2 linked regions of the Homo sapiens genome follow. The protein of the gene in region 1 interacts with the protein of each later gene in a pairwise test. Each region holds a gene or a part of one and is shown on either strand. Other genes may lie near its edges.

What was found. Proteins that work in one complex are often made in the same cells at the same time.
Region 2: the proteins of GLO1 (region 1) and PUS10 interact in binary tests that used the Homo sapiens proteins (3 or more experiments, as listed by UniProt).

Annotation. Positions count from the first base shown.
Region 1 is NC_000006.12:38,699,355-38,708,576, reverse strand, and holds the start of GLO1 (lactoylglutathione lyase), read left to right. Parts: upstream 1-5,431; 5' UTR 5,432-5,522; coding exon 5,523-5,606; intron 5,607-9,222. UniProt on the Homo sapiens protein: Catalyzes the conversion of hemimercaptal, formed from methylglyoxal and glutathione, to S-lactoylglutathione. Involved in the regulation of TNF-induced transcriptional activity of NF-kappa-B. Required for normal osteoclastogenesis.
Region 2 is NC_000002.12:60,939,723-60,946,085, forward strand, and holds the end of PUS10 (tRNA pseudouridine synthase Pus10), read right to left. Parts: intron 5,387-6,363; coding exon 5,287-5,386; intron 2,712-5,286; coding exon 2,673-2,711; 3' UTR 501-2,672; downstream 1-500. UniProt on the Homo sapiens protein: Protein with different functions depending on its subcellular location: involved in miRNA processing in the nucleus and acts as a tRNA pseudouridylate synthase in the cytoplasm.

The DNA.
Region 1 (9,222 bases):
GCAAAAATGGTATTGTGCTATGTGTATTCTTCTGCAACTTGTAATTTTTTTCATTTCTATTATGAGATTTATCCCTGTTGGAATAGTAGCTCTGGTTCATTCATTTTTACTTATGTATAGTAGTCCACTCAATGAAAATAACACAATCTATCTATTTTCCTACGGTTGGACATTAAGGCTTTATCCTTTTTTCTTCTTTTATTTTTTTTGCCATTCAAACCATGTCTGTTATATATGTCTCATGGAGTGCAGACACAATAACCCTCTAGGATATATACTTAGCAGTGGATCCCAGGATGTACTCTCTTCAACTTCATTAGATACTGCCAAATTACTTTCCAAAGTGTGTCCACCAGCAAGTGTTTATGCATTTCAGCTGTTCTACATCCACACCAACACTTGATATTGACAGGTTTTTAATTTTTTAATTTCTGTCAATCTCAAGAGCATAAAAGAAAACTCATTTCTATATTAAATTGCATTTACCTATTTACCAGAAAATTGGAGCAATTTTTTTTTCTTTTACTTTTTTTGAGACAGAGTCTCACTCTGTCACCCAGGCTGGAGTGCAGTGGCGTGATCTCAGCTCACTGCAACCTCTGCCTCCCGGGTTCAAGTGATTCTCCTGCCTCAGCCTCCTAAGTAGTTGGGATTACAGGCACATGCCACCACACCTGGTTAATTTTTGTATTTTTAGTACAGACGGGGTTTCACCATGTTGGTCAGGCTGGTCTCAAACTCCCGACCTCGTGATCCTCCTGCCTCAGCCTCCCAAACTGCTGGGATTACAGGCGTGAGCCCCCACTCCCGGACTCTCTCTCTTTCTTTCTTTCTTTCTTTCTTTCTTTCTTTCTTTCTTTCTTTCTTTCTTTCCTTCTTTCTTTCTTTCTTCCTTTCTTTCTTTCTCTCTCTCTTTCTTCCTTCCTTCCTTCCCTCCCTCCCTCCTTCCTTCCTTCCTCTTTCTTTCTTTCCTCCCTTCCTTTCCTTTCTTTCCTCCCTTCCTTTCCTTTCTTTCCTCCCTTCCTTTCCTTTCTTTCCTTTTTTTGAGACAGGGTCTCATTCTGTCGCCCAAGTAACGTGATCTCACCTCACTGCAACCTCCACCTCCCAGGTTCAAGTGATTCTCCTACCTTAGCCTCCTAAGTAGCTGGGATTACAGGCATGTGCCACCACACCTGGCTAATTTTTGTACTTTTAGTAGAGGTGGGGTTTCACTACGTAGGGCAGACTTGGAGCAATTTTTCATATGAATATATGCTATTTCTATTCTCTCTTTTGTAAATTGCCTATTCTTCTTTTTGGCCATTTTTTTCTATCGAGTTATGTGTCTCTTTCTCATTGATTTCTAACAGTTTTTACATATTCTGGATACTGAACCTTTGTTGGCTATGTGTGTTGCCCATACTTTCTCCTGGTCTATGGTTTAACTTTTTACCTTTTAGGGTGTGTTTTAGCTTTCTTTTATACTTCGTGCTTTTATATCTCATTAAGAAACTTCTTTCTTTCTTTCTTTCTTTTTTTTTGGAGATGGAGTCTTGCTCTGTCACCCAGGCTGGAGTGCAGTGGCACGATCTCGGCTCACTGCAACCCCTGCCTCCCAGGTTCAAACAATTCTCCTGCCTCAGCCTCCCGAGTAGCTGGGACTACAAGCACACGCCACCACGCCTGGCTAATTTTTTGAATTTTAGCAGAGACGAGGTTTCACTGTGTTGCCCAGGCTGGTCTCAAACTCCTGAACTCAGGCAATCCACCTGTCTCAGCCTTCCAAAGTGCTAGTGAGCCACCGCGCCCAGCCTTCATTAAGAAATTTCTACCATGAATTCACAAAGGCATTTTCTAATATTTTATTCTTCAAGGTTTTAAGTTTTGCCTTTTCACATTTATGTCTATAATCCTCTTGGACTTACGTTTTCCTTTATGGTATGAAATAGAGATCTTTTTTTATCACATACATAATCAATTGTCCTTACCCCATTCATTGAAAAAATAATCTTTTCCCCACTAGCAGTAAGATAACACATACCAAATTTATATATATATACACACACACAGAGACACAAACATGGTATGTGTGTATATTGGTTGCCTATTAATGCACAACAACTTATTCCAAAACTTAGCAGCTGAAAACAATAAACATTTATTATCTCACAGTTTCTGTGGTTTAAGAATCTGGGAATGGTCCAGCTAGGTAGTTCTGGATCAGGGTCTCTCACAAGACAGTGACTAAGAGGTTGGCCAAAGCAGCAGTCATTTTGAAGCTCTACTGAAAAAGGACCCACTTGCAATTTTACTGTGTAGCTGATGGCAGGTGTCTGGCCTTCACTGGCTGTTGACCAGAGACATTGGTTCCTTGCCACATGCATCTCTCCTTAGAGTTGCTCACAACGTGACAACTTGCTTACCCTCCAAGTGAGAGATCAAAGAAAGTGACAGAGCTCCCAAGATAAGAATCACAACATTTCATTCTCTAATCTCAGAAATGACATGAAGTGACACTTTATCATGTCTATCATGCTCTTTGTATCAGAAGTGAGCCACCAAATCCAGCCCATACTCAAGGTTAGGGAAGCAGACAAGACTGTGAAGACCCGGAGGTGGGGATCATTGGGGTTATCTTAGAGTGGTCTACTACAGTTTCCATTTGTTGATCTATGCCAGCCTCCCTACCATACTGTCTTTTTTTTTTTTTTCATCCTGTCTTAATTACTGTAGCTTGTACAAAGTCTTGTTATCCGGTAGAGAATGTTCCCCTACTTAATTATTATTCAGTATATCTTTCCTATTTGGGGCCCTAAAAATAGAATGTAGAATCTGCTTGTTCATTTTAATTGAAAACCCCTGGGCCAGGCACAGTGGTTCATACCTGTAATCACACTTTGGGGAGGCCAAAGTGCGAGGATCACTTGAGCTCAGGAGTTCAAGACCAGCCTGGGCAACATAGTGAGATGCTGTCTCTACAAAAACTAAAATAAAATAAATTATCTGGTTTTGGTGGTGCATGCCTATAGTCTTAGCTATTTGTGAGGCTGAGGTGGGTGGGTGGGTGGATTGCTGGAGCCTGAGAGGTTGAGGCTGCAGTGAGCTGAGACAGCACCACTGCACTCCACACTGGGCAACAGAGTGAGACCCTATCTTGAAAGAAAGAAAGAAGAAAGAAAAGAAAGAAAGAAGAAAGAAAGAAAGAAATAAAGAAAGAAACAAATAAAGAAAGAAGAAAGAAAGAAAGAAAGAAAGAAAGAAAGAAAGAAAGAAAGAAAGAAAGAAAGAAAGAAAGGACTCTGTTGGGATTTTTATTGGAATTTCATTACATGAACAGATTAATTAGTAAATGAATTGATATTTTATGATATTGAGTCTTCCTATTCATTTACATGCTTTATATCTCACATAGTCTGAGAAGCTCACCAGAAAGATTAGTGCAAAAGGGCTGGGAACAGTGGCTCATGCCTGTAATCCCAGCACTTTGGGAGGCCGAGGTGGGCGGATCACCTGAGGTCAGGAGTTTGAGACCAGCCTGGCCAACATGGTGAAACCGTGTCTCTACTAAAAATACAAAAATTAGCCAGCATGGTGGCAGGTGCCTGTAATCCCAGCTACTTGGGAGGCTCAGGCAGGAGAATCGCTTGAACCCAGGAGGTGGAGGTTGCAGTGAGCCAAGATCACACCACTGCATTCCAGCCTGGGCGACAGAGGAAGACTCCATCTAAAAAAGAAAATTAATGCAAAAGAAGACAATTTGGGGGTCTTTTCAATAATTCAGTGGTAACACACAGTATATGGAGAGTTTGTGTATTGCTCCAATTCCCGAGTTTAAAAGGTTTAAGGTCTAGTTCCATATAGAAGTCCTGCAGTTCTAATAGACTGTGTTTTGATGAAATATCCTCAGTAAGTTAGTATGAGGTATGCACAACATTTCTGCTGAAATCCTTATCCTGCCTATCATTTTGCAGTGGACATCCATGGTTCAGTTTGCCTGGCAATCCTCCCTTCTCATAAGAACATCATCGCTCTTCTTTTAGGGAACTAACAGATCCTCCCCAAACTCCAATCAGGTGGTCCTAATCCAGGTTGCCAATCGCAGTGCTTCAATCACAGGAGTAAGCACAGGTCCTAGGCCAGGCCAATCACAGCTCCTTCTTGGATTTTCCAATTTGATAAAATCCAGGCTGGCTGGATAAAATCCAGAGGGAGAGTTTACTCCCACTCCTAGTGAGAGAACAGCTGCCAAATTTCTAGTCTTATGGAGCTGGTGTCTGACAAACTGAAGCTGCGATGCAGAAAAAAGCTGAGATGAGAGACGGGGACATCTTGGTGGTGGCCAGGTGGCTAGTGCCATATACATCCCTGCCCAACCTCATTTTGGTTAGGTGAGCACCAGTCATTCCCATTTATTCTTTTAACAACAGGAAGTATTTAATGAGCATCTACTATTATGAGCCAATCATTGAAGACACAGTGATGACTAAGCCTTCCAGTGAACACAAAATATATATTAATGTAAAAAGTACTGCAAGTTATGGACATTTGGAACCTAAGTAGGCAAACCATGACTTAAATCTCATTTAGGCTGGGCACAGTGGCTACACCTGTAATCCCAGCACTTTGGGAGGCTGAGGCGGGAGGGTCACTTCAGCCCAGGAGTTGAGACCAGCCTGGGCAACATGGTGAAACCCCCATCTCAAAAAAATACAAAAATTAACTGGTCTTGGTTTTGCAGCCTGTAGTCTCAGCTAATCGGGAGGCTGAGGCCAGAGGACAGCTAGAGCCCCGGAAGTCGAGGCAGCAGTGACTGCAGTAAGCTGAGAGCACACCACTGCACTCCAGCCTGGGCGACAGAGCGAGACACTGTTAAAAAAATTAAAAAAAAAAAAAAAAGAAAGAAAGAAAGAAAAGAAAAAAGAAAAAGGAAAAGAAAACTTATTTAATTCTCAACAAATCCTGTTAGGAAGCTCAGAGAGGGTCAGTAATTATTGCAAGTTTCTAGCGCTAATATATAGCGGAACCAAGACTTGAACATAGGTTTTCGACTCAACAATTGTTTTAATTACTCTGCGCTGCGTAAACTGAGAAACCTCTGAATCCTTACAATTTTAAAAGAACAACTTACAGTTTTCAGTTTCCATCAGATTCCAATTTTCTACCAAATTGCAGCCCTGAGGTATGAATGGTTACCAAACTTTAGTTAAACAAACAAAATTAGCTCATTAAGTAACAGAGAAACCACTCTGCCCAGCCTGCATTTTTTTTTTTTTTTTTGTATGAGTTTGCCTCCTTTATGCGCAAGGCTCCTTGGGAGTTGTAGTCTGAGGCATAGTCCTGTGGGTGGAGGCGCTGACTCACTGGGACCCAATCAGCAGAGAGTCAACTTGCTCTCCGCGCAGCGATTGGCTGGAAGTCAGCGGTCTCCCGCCCGCGGCGCCATCGCGCCATTCCTAGTTAAGGCGGCACAGGGCCGAGGCGTAGTGTGGGTGACTCCTCCGTTCCTTGGGTCCCGTCGTCTGTGATACTGCAGCGCAGCCATGGCAGAACCGCAGCCCCCGTCCGGCGGCCTCACGGACGAGGCCGCCCTCAGTTGCTGCTCCGACGCGGACCCCAGTACCAAGGTGGGCACAGGACCGAAGGGAACGGCTCCCCCAGCTCCGCTGGGCCGGGACCGGGCCGCATTCTATCCAACCCCATCCCGCCGCCGCTGCAGGTCCGCCGGCCTCGGGCGGACGGGAGTGTGATGGGAAGAGGGATAATGGTGTTTGATGGGGCGATCGTGGGGCCCGCGAAGTGTGGAGGGGATCTGTTGCCTCAGCTAGTTTCAAAGACTGCGACCCTGTTTTGAATTGGCTTGTTTATGTTGCGACGGTGGCTGGAAGCCAGGCCAACCCAGGGTCAGCTTTCCCAAATCAGTCGCCAAGGCCCACGAGAACAGTAGTTTCAGAACTCCCAGAAATAGGTTCAAAGATGCCTGTCCTGTACCAGTCCTGCCCAGCCTCGTTTTTCCTTACCACCCTGACTGCAGTCTTAACTCCTGCAAACTAATTTGATCGCTCTAAGTTTAACCGCGCCCAGAATTTCACTTTTGCTTGCTTGGCCTTTGCTGTGGGTCACAACAGCCCTTCTTGCCTTCCTCATCTTCGTGGGGCCCAGGAGAGATTACAGAATCATAGAGTTTGGATCTGAAAGGAATCTTAGAAATTCCTTCTCTTACCCTCTCGTTTTACAGTAATGACCCAGTAAGAGAAATGACCTGTTGCATACAAAGGCTTTCACTTACCGAACATGTCTTTACTGGGTAAGAATCAGTGTAACTCACTCAGGTGTGGTGTTTCGGTTGCCTTGTTAAGATCAGACACAGTTGGCGGGCGCGGTGGCTCACGCCTGTAATCCCAGCACTTTGGGAGGCCAAGGCGGGCGGATCACGAGGTCAAGAGGTAGAGACCATCCTAACACGGTGAAACCCCGTCTCTACTAAAAATACAAAAAAATGAGCTGGGCGTGGTGGCGGGTGCCTGTAGTCCCAGCTACTCGGGAGGCTGAGGCAGGAGAATGGCATGAACCCGGGAGGCGGAGCTTGCAGTGAGCTGAGATCGTGCCACTGCACTCCAGCCTGGGCGACAGAGTGAGACTCTGTCTAAAAAAAAAAAAAAAAAAAAATTCAGGCACAGTAACCGCTGTTTATTCCAGTGAAGTCATCAGTGTCTGTAAACACCTTTGTATTTATTTATTTGACTACATCATTTGTAAATTCCTTGAAGATTGAATATGTGCTTCGTGCAGACCTTTAAAAGGGGTAGATAAGTGGTCCATGACTCTGGTCCCTGCTTGTTCTTTACCTTCAGGGCAAAGAGTCAGACACATCTCATTGCTAAAACTTTTGACTAGCACCTGGTACTTGGCTTAGGAAAAATGTTAGTCATTGCAAAATTAAGGGGGAAGGTAAAAAAATTCCGTCATGCCCATCTCACTTGTATATCCCTTAATATTAATACCTGGTTTTTTCATATAATGTAAATTGAGTCACTCAGTGTAAAGTATTTTCCCAGATAACTAGGGGTTTTATGTAATGGGGTTTTCAAATAAAAAGGATTCCAGGGATATCTTTATAAAATATACTAAGTAAATGTCCTTGCAGCTTAATTTACATTCCACAGTATCTAAATTTCTCTTGATGATTCGGAGTAATTAATTTTGAGATCAGTAATTTTTGGCCATGGGAGACATAAAATGGAATACATAATAATAGCTGGTATATATTGAGTGTGCCAGGCCCTGGCTTGGTATTTTAAGTACATTGTTTAATTTAATCCTAACAACAACCCTATGAAGAAGGCATAATTATGATCTTCATTTTACAAATAAGGACACTCAGGCACATAGAGGTGTTGAGTGATTTGCCCAGGGAGGACCCCACACTTCCAACCTCCACCCTGTTCTGCTTCTGGGGTGCTGACTCCAGCAGTAATTTTGGAATTTGCCATAAAGGAAAATAAAAAACCTCAATGAAGGCTGGGTGCAGTGGCTCATGCCTGTAATCCCAGCACTTTGGGAGAGCGAGGTGGGCAGATCACCTGAGGTTAGCAGTTCGAGACCAGCCTGGCCAACATGGCAAAACTCTGCTCTACTAAAAATACAAAAATTAGCTGGGCATGGTGGCGGGCACCTGTAATCCCAGCTACTTGGGAGGCTGAGGCAGGAAAATCACTTGAACCCATGAGGTGGAGGTTGCAGGGAGCCGAGATCATGCCACTGCATTCCAGCTTGGGTGACAGAGTGAGACTTTGTCCAAAAAAAAAAAAAAACCCTCAATGAATTAAATTCAGTTTGATCACTTGATACATTTATGCTATATGTAAAGAAGATGGTAAGTACTTTGGGGATACTGGGATAAACAAGATGAGGTTCCCTCCCTTCACCAACTTATATCAACTCTAATATACAATGGACCTGGGGTTAGTGTGCTATTGAAATATAAATCACCCTGAGAGCACCCTGGGAGGTAGAGGTTTTTAAAGGTAGCATTAGTGGAATGGGGTATGCACAGGGTATTTGGAGCCTGAAGACCTGCATTTGAATCCCCACTTCTGTTGTTGGCTGCAGTGACCTTGCCAGGGCACTTGGGCTCAGTTTGTAGAAGGAGCATAAAGATATCTCAGAGAGCTGCTATGAGGATAAAATGACATGTATTATGTTCTCTAAACTATGAAGAGTGATACAATTCAAGGTTGTATTTCAGCTGTGGGGATCAGGGCACACATCAAAAAGATGGTGGTGATGGGCCTATGCCTTGATAGATTGGGTAGGATTCCAGCAGAGTACATGGGAAGGCATTCTGATGAAGGAAACATCTTAGCAAAAATGTGTTTTGATACGGGGGGAACCCACCCCAATATTTCAACGTAGGTTCTTTCTATTTTCCATAAGTATTGGCCAGCTGAGAAATAAAGAGTACAAAGAGAGGAATTTTACAGCTGGGCTGCCGGGGGGTGACATCACATATCAGTAGGACTGTGATGCCCACCTGAGTCTTAGACCAGCAAGTTTTTATTAAGGGTTTCAAAAGGGGAGGGGGTGTAAGAACAGGGAGTAGGTACAAAGATCACATGCTTCAAAGGGCAAAAAGCAGAACTACTAATAAGGGTCTAACAAAGATCACAAGGCAAAGGGCAAAAGCAGAACTACTGATAAGGGTCCAACAAAGATCACAAGGCAAAGGGCAAAAGCAGAACTACTGATAAGGGTCTATGTTCAGCAGTGCACGTATTGTCTTGATAAACATCTTAAACAACAGAAAACAGGGTTCGAGAGCAGAGAAGCGGTCTGACCACAAATTTACTAGGGTGAAGTTTTTTCCCCACCCTAGTAAGCCTGAGGGTACTGCAGGAGACGAGGGCGTATCTCAGTCCTTATCTCAACCTCATAAGACAGACATTCCCAGAGCGGGCGTTTATAGACCTCCCCCCAGGAATGCGTTCCTTTCCCAGGGTATTAATATTAATATTCCTTGCTAGGAAAATAATTTAGCAATATCTCTCCTACTTGCACGTCCGTTTATAGGCTCTCTGCAAGAAGAAAAATATGGCTCTTTTTGTCCGACCCCTCAGGCAGTCAGACCTTATGGTTGTCTTCCCTTGTTCCCTAAAATCGCTGTTTTTCTGTTGTTTTTCAAGGTGCGCCGATTTCATATTGTTCAAACACAGTTTTACAATCAATTTGTACAGTTAACACAAT
Region 2 (6,363 bases), on another chromosome or scaffold:
TGTGAGCACTTGACTATGAAGGACACTGATGGGACAACTGGCAACTTGAACGGGGTCTGTGGGTTAGATGGTAATATACCAGTGTTAATTTCCTGGTTTTGATCACTGTGTTGTGGTTAAGTAAAAGAATGTCCTTGTTTGTAGAAATTACACACTGAAGCCTTTAAGATCATGAGACAGCACTGGCTCCATGGTTCAGGGAAAAAGGTTCTTTGTACTTTAACTTTTCCTGTAAGTTTGGAATTATTTCAAAATTTAAAAATTCAAAATAGAATCATAAAAGTAATATTTTTCATAATAAACAAGGGTAGCCTTTGTTAAAAAATCAGAAAAGCTGATATCAAAGTTCATTCTCTTATGTGGACTTAAAAATCAAAGAATAATTAGCTCCAAAAGAAAAGATTTGCCAAGTAAGATGTTTTTCTCTTACAAAATGGAAATTTAACTTCTAAATTTACTTCACATAACTTGCAAATGTAACCGGTTTTCTTACTTGGACATTTTTCATTTTACCAACTTTATTTTCTTTTGACTTTTCCAGGTATTCAGAGTTGATGTTTTTCCTAAAATAAACCACAGACTATATTTGGGACTATATAAGAGATACTAAGAAGTACAAAGGGCTCTTTCTCTTAAGTGTTATGAAAAAGACTTTGAATTTAAATAAAGCTTACAAAGAAATCATAAAACTAATTTTAAAATGCTTTTATGTAGGCAAAAGGGAAACTATAGTACTCTCACTACTTAATATTTCCAGTTCTGCCTAAAACAAAGACATACATTAATTTTTAACAATCTTTGTCTCAAAATTCTAGGAACATTTGGAAGAAGTATTTAAAGCTAATGCTTACTCTTTGCGTGAAATTTTATATAATCTCAGGAATAGAAATTTAAGAAATAGAAATCTTCTCATTTCAGTTTGCTAAGCACATTCTTCATTCTTACATATTACAGGTCCACTAGATTCAAAGGTAAGCCAAAAATACCATGCAAAAGACTGCCTCCTAAATTATTTAAATCTCTTTTGTAGCAAAATTTTCCCAGAAACTGAGGAACATCCACACAGAAATTCTTACCTTTTTATCAAAAGTTTGTTATCCTTTTCTCATTTTCTGGGCCTTTCAATGCATTGGCATTGACAAGAGTGAAAAAATTATTTGCTGTTATTTGCATATCAAACACATGGTTTCAACGTGGTATGAAACTATGTTGGTTCCAACGTGGCTGACTCCTTTGTGTCCATTAAAACCATTTTCCTCATATCTAAAGTGAATCTTGGTATCTGTGATTTATGTTTAATATAGAGATGGGAAATGGTTAGTAATCTAATACTAGTCAAGTCACATGTATTCTTAAAAAAAGCTCAAATAGTTGAATTAGGGTGATGGAAATTATACTCAAATCTGAAATTGTAATGAGGCTCCTTTCTGAAACTTAAATGACCCATTCATTTTTTTTAGGTTTAGCTTAATGTTTTTCCTCTTCATAATACCAACTGAGGTTTAACTTAATAACAAATGGTAACTATATAAGATTGTATTAAATAGTCTTGGGCTATTTTTTGGTAAGCTCTTTGATTTGGTAACTACATTCCAAAAGTTAATTATCAGTTACATGAGTTTAAATGGCATCCATAGCTGCCCCTTCACACAAACAGGTGCTCAGTAATAGGGCTTATTAGAAAGACCCTAGAAACCAAGAAACTTCAGTTCTAGTCCTCAATATAGAAGTAGCTAACAATTTTGGATAAGTCATTTAACTTCTAGTCTTTGGTTTCCATATTTATAAAATGGAGACAATATCCTATCTACTTTAATAAGGTATTATTAAAATGTTTATAATTGGATAATATATTGAAGCATTCTGAAATAATACCAGTTCGTCTTTGTTTAGCAATCTCAATTTTTCAAATTCTTAACCCTGGGATTGAAGTTATTAAAGGCACTTGTTTCTCCTTATTTAAAAGATTTATGAAAGGCTCCTACCATGGCATGCCTTGGCTCCTACGGTTTTACTTTCCCTCCACAGGAAACCTATATTGACAATTTTAGATTGTCAAAATTCTTTCTTAATGAAAGTATTAATGAGAATTATTTCATTATTCATAGTTTGGTTAAGATTTATGACAAATCACAGCCAAAAGAACTTCATTGGTAATAGCTTGTTTGAGGCTTCCTGGGGAAAATAATGATGTCAGATTTGCATTTGCAATCTTAGACTATTATAGGATATTATGCTGCATAAATCTAGATATAACTTTTATTCAGATAATTTACAAAAATTAGAACATGATTTTAAAGGTGGTATATCTCTTGTGGAGGGAAATCTTGCTGAAATTACAGCTTCTTAGGTTAACAGAGAATGTGTCCTGTTTGTGCACCTCTCTAAATGAAAGAATTAAGGAGAATTATTTCATTATTCATAGTTTGGTTTGTGGGGGTGAAAGAGGGAATGAGAAAAATCCTAAGACATCCTTGGAACAATTTAACACAAAATATACACATATATAGATCCTGAGATGTTACAACAAATTAACAATTATATAGATCAACATGATCCAAATAGTTTTCAAGACACCGTTATGGTGGGTAAACAGCCATTTTACGGCATGTGCTCCATGGATGTCCACATCATGCCAGGAAAACCATACTCTTTGTCTCCAAATTTGAAAGCTAGTCATCCAGAGCAGGTGGCCAGTCAACATCTACAGACTAGAAGGGAGAAAAGAAGTCATTAAAACAGATATTACTGTTGTGGTAAGCATTTGCTGGTAATGCTGTATAAATTTAATAGTTTTAATATAGTGCAACAGAAGAAACTGCATTTGAAGAAAAGAGCTATTGAATACCATAAATTAACCCTCAAGTCTGTTCTAGGTATTCTTGGGCCTGAGGTCTTCTGAATTAATTGAGTAGCAGTATTTGGCTACTCAGTTGGTTATTAACTGTGCTTTTTGACTGATAAGAGAATACATTTAAATTTTTTAAATGGTATTTATGGGGCCAGGTGTGGTGGCTCACACCTTTAATCCCAGCACTTTGGGAGGCCGATCAATTATATAGATCAACATGATCAAGGTGGGCAGACCACTCAAAGTCAAGAGTTCAAGACCAGCCTGGCCAACATGGCAAAACCCCGTCTCCACTAAAAATGCAAAATTTAGCCAAGCATGGTGGCACACGCCTGTAGTCCTAGCTACTCAGGAAGCTGAGGCAGGAGAACAGCTTGAGCCCAGGAGGCAGAGGTTGCAGTGAGCCGAAATCACGCCACAGCACTCCAGCCTGGGTGACAGAATGAGACCCTATCTATCTCAGAAAAAAAAAAAAAAAAAAAAGTATTTATGGGTAAAAGTAGCAAACAAATTCAAGTGACCACCAATTTTCCCTCAGAAGTCTCAGAAACTTTTATTCTTCTGATCATTTTTATTCTCTCATCTTGCATTTAACAAATATTCAAGTAGTCTATAAGCCTATAGTCTTGTTGTAACACAGCAACAAAATGTGAAATAAATGATTATGAAAGATGACCTGGAACCAGAAAAGGATTAAGGATCTTTGTGCTTCAGTTCTGTAGAATTTCTGTTTCTTTAAAATCCAGTTCATCTATCTCTACTTACCTTTATTTTGTTCTTCTAGGACAAAACCTTGATCTTTGAGTCAGAATGAAATTACAGTAAACAGACTATTTGTCTCCACATAAACACATACCAGGTCTATCAAAGGCTAGGGGATCTACTTTAAGAGAAAGTTAAAAAAAAAAAAAAACCCACCGTATCTATCTGTGGCTTTTATTGACATTTAAAGTTTAAAACATAAAATTATTTACTGAAAATTTTTTCATTAATCCATGAGTCACTTCACGTACTGGCTTCAAAAAAAATTTATTAGAAAAGCCTAAATAGCTATGTGTGTGTGTGTCTTTTACAAATCTCAAGAAGATATTTTTGTTCTGTTTCAGAATATAGCCATATACCAAACACCCAAATGTAAATTAATGAGTGTTTTCTCAAGCTGAAAATAAAACATGACTGATCACAATCTTGTGTGTGTGTGTGTGTGTGTGTGTGTGTGTGGAGGGGAGGCAAGTTGTAGTGCTTAAAAAGCTCCACAAGTGATTCCAGTGGGCAGTCAGTGTTGAGAAACACTGGCCTGTGAGTCTTTGACACTCCTAACTGTTCTGAGAATTAAAGTAAAAAAAGATTAATGCAAGCCTGGGCAACACGGTGAGACCCCATCTCAACAACAACAACAACAAAAAAACGCCAGGCATAGTGGCTCATGCCTGTGGTCCCAGCTACTCGGGAGACTGAGGCAGGGGATCGCTTGAGCCCGAGAGGTCAGGGTTGCAGTGACCCGTGATCGCACCACTGCACTCCAGCCTGGGTGACAGTGCAAGACCCTGTCTCAAAAAAAAAAAAAGATGATGAGTAGAGATTTTCTTTAACAGAAGGTTTTCTTCCTCCAAATGATAGTTTCACTGAAGAGGCTCCCTGCAACCTTGAGGGCACGATCACTGGCTGTACTGCAGGAGCTAATCTAATCCCAGAGCACTTGAGAGAATTGCTGGTAAGGAAGTAATACTCCAGTGATCATTTGATTACCATAGATGTTTTCACATTGGGCAACTATGCCCACTTCTTTCTATAACTTTGATATTATTCCCAAGTACAAATCCCCAAGTCCTAAGATTCTGGGGAGAGGAGCGGGGGAGGTACTCTATTCCTAGTCAGATTTTCATGAAGAAACACCACTCGTGACTCAACACCTATTGATACTCAAATGAAATATTTATGGAGACTTGCCCGACAGAACCATTCTTACAATTACTTTAGAATTTAACCTTGTTTCAATTCAGACTGTAAGAGCAGAGAACTTGGACCACATCACAGGGGTCCTTATAGAACTGCTTTTATGAAGAACCATTGGCTCACCTCACTTTCTACCCTTGTGAATCCATGTTTCTGAATATGCTGCTTTAAAGTCTTTATAAAACGCAACAGGTATGGAAATGACTATTTCCGTGCTTGGTTTAAGGGTTTAGATTTGATACTACATGTAAAGCACAGTTAATAAATTAGCTATATATTTTCAAGGAACATAAATGAGACCTCATATTAAAAAAAAAAATCCGAAGACAGTCCCTCCCTTCAATACAATGTTACTGTGAGATTTTCACCATTCTCAAATACCTATGGAGGTGGGTGATACTAAAATGGCTTAATGCCAAAGAGCATAACTTTGGTTGAATTCAATTTGCCAATGTGCATTCCACAACAAAATGGTTTACCTCAACATCCAGCTCCAGAATGTCTGCAGTCACATTCATCAGGGACCCAATGTTTGGCTTGGTTCTCCCGAAGTCTCCATGTACAAACTCTTTAATGTAGCTGGGGTTTGTTTAAGGAAAAAATGAAGACAGCATGCTGTACCAACTATTTGGTAAGATTTGACAGGCAAAAATAATAATAAGAGCAGAAATGTTACAAAAGAAAGGTTACTTCTGAGCTCTGACTTGTGTGTCTTAAAAAATAAGCTTTGGCAATGTGGTCCCTAGTAGCCTGGCAGCCAACATCAGAGCCTGGGAAATGTGTTTACATCAAACTTACCAAAAATCATTACTTTCTTTTTTCTTTATAGCTCATCTCCAAGTGCCAAGGTTTGGATGTGGATTTTAAAAATTAACCATAGCTCAATGCTTTTATTAAAAAACAACTTTGCCACAATTTCTATGTTATTATCTTGTTAGTCCCATTTTTTTAATAATGGCAACTGTCACCTGCCAGATGGTAGGTTTCCACAGAGCCACACAGAGAGTGATCTCAATGATGGCATTCCTTGTAACATGACCCAGAGGCAATAGGGTGGAAGGAATAATGAGACTATTAGTTTAGTCTTAATGATGGCTCTTCGGAAGGATTACCAAAGACCTACCGTCTAGTTTGCTAACATGGTTAGCAAAAGAACTAAGTTAATTCTCTCTCTCTTTCTTAAAGGGGCAACTTTGTATTTCTCTCAAAATTGTATTTCAAATTTTGAAATCAATAACTAATTCTAGAATTTGTTTTTAAGATTAACATTCCTTACATAGGACTGTACTGCAGCTTTGACAATATTTATCTAAAAGATTTGTTTTTGCCAGAATTTGGTAAAAATGCAGCATTATGTTTTGTTCTACAAACCAGCATTTAGTAGAAAATAATTAATGGAACTTGAATAGAGAAATAAATTTGTTTCCAGATGATGAAAAATCTATATTATAATATGCTGATATTATGTCCTCACTTTCTGAACGTTTTACTCACTCTACCTTTGCCAAATGTTTTGACTAAAGCATAAGACATATAATTATCTAGTAACTGTGTTT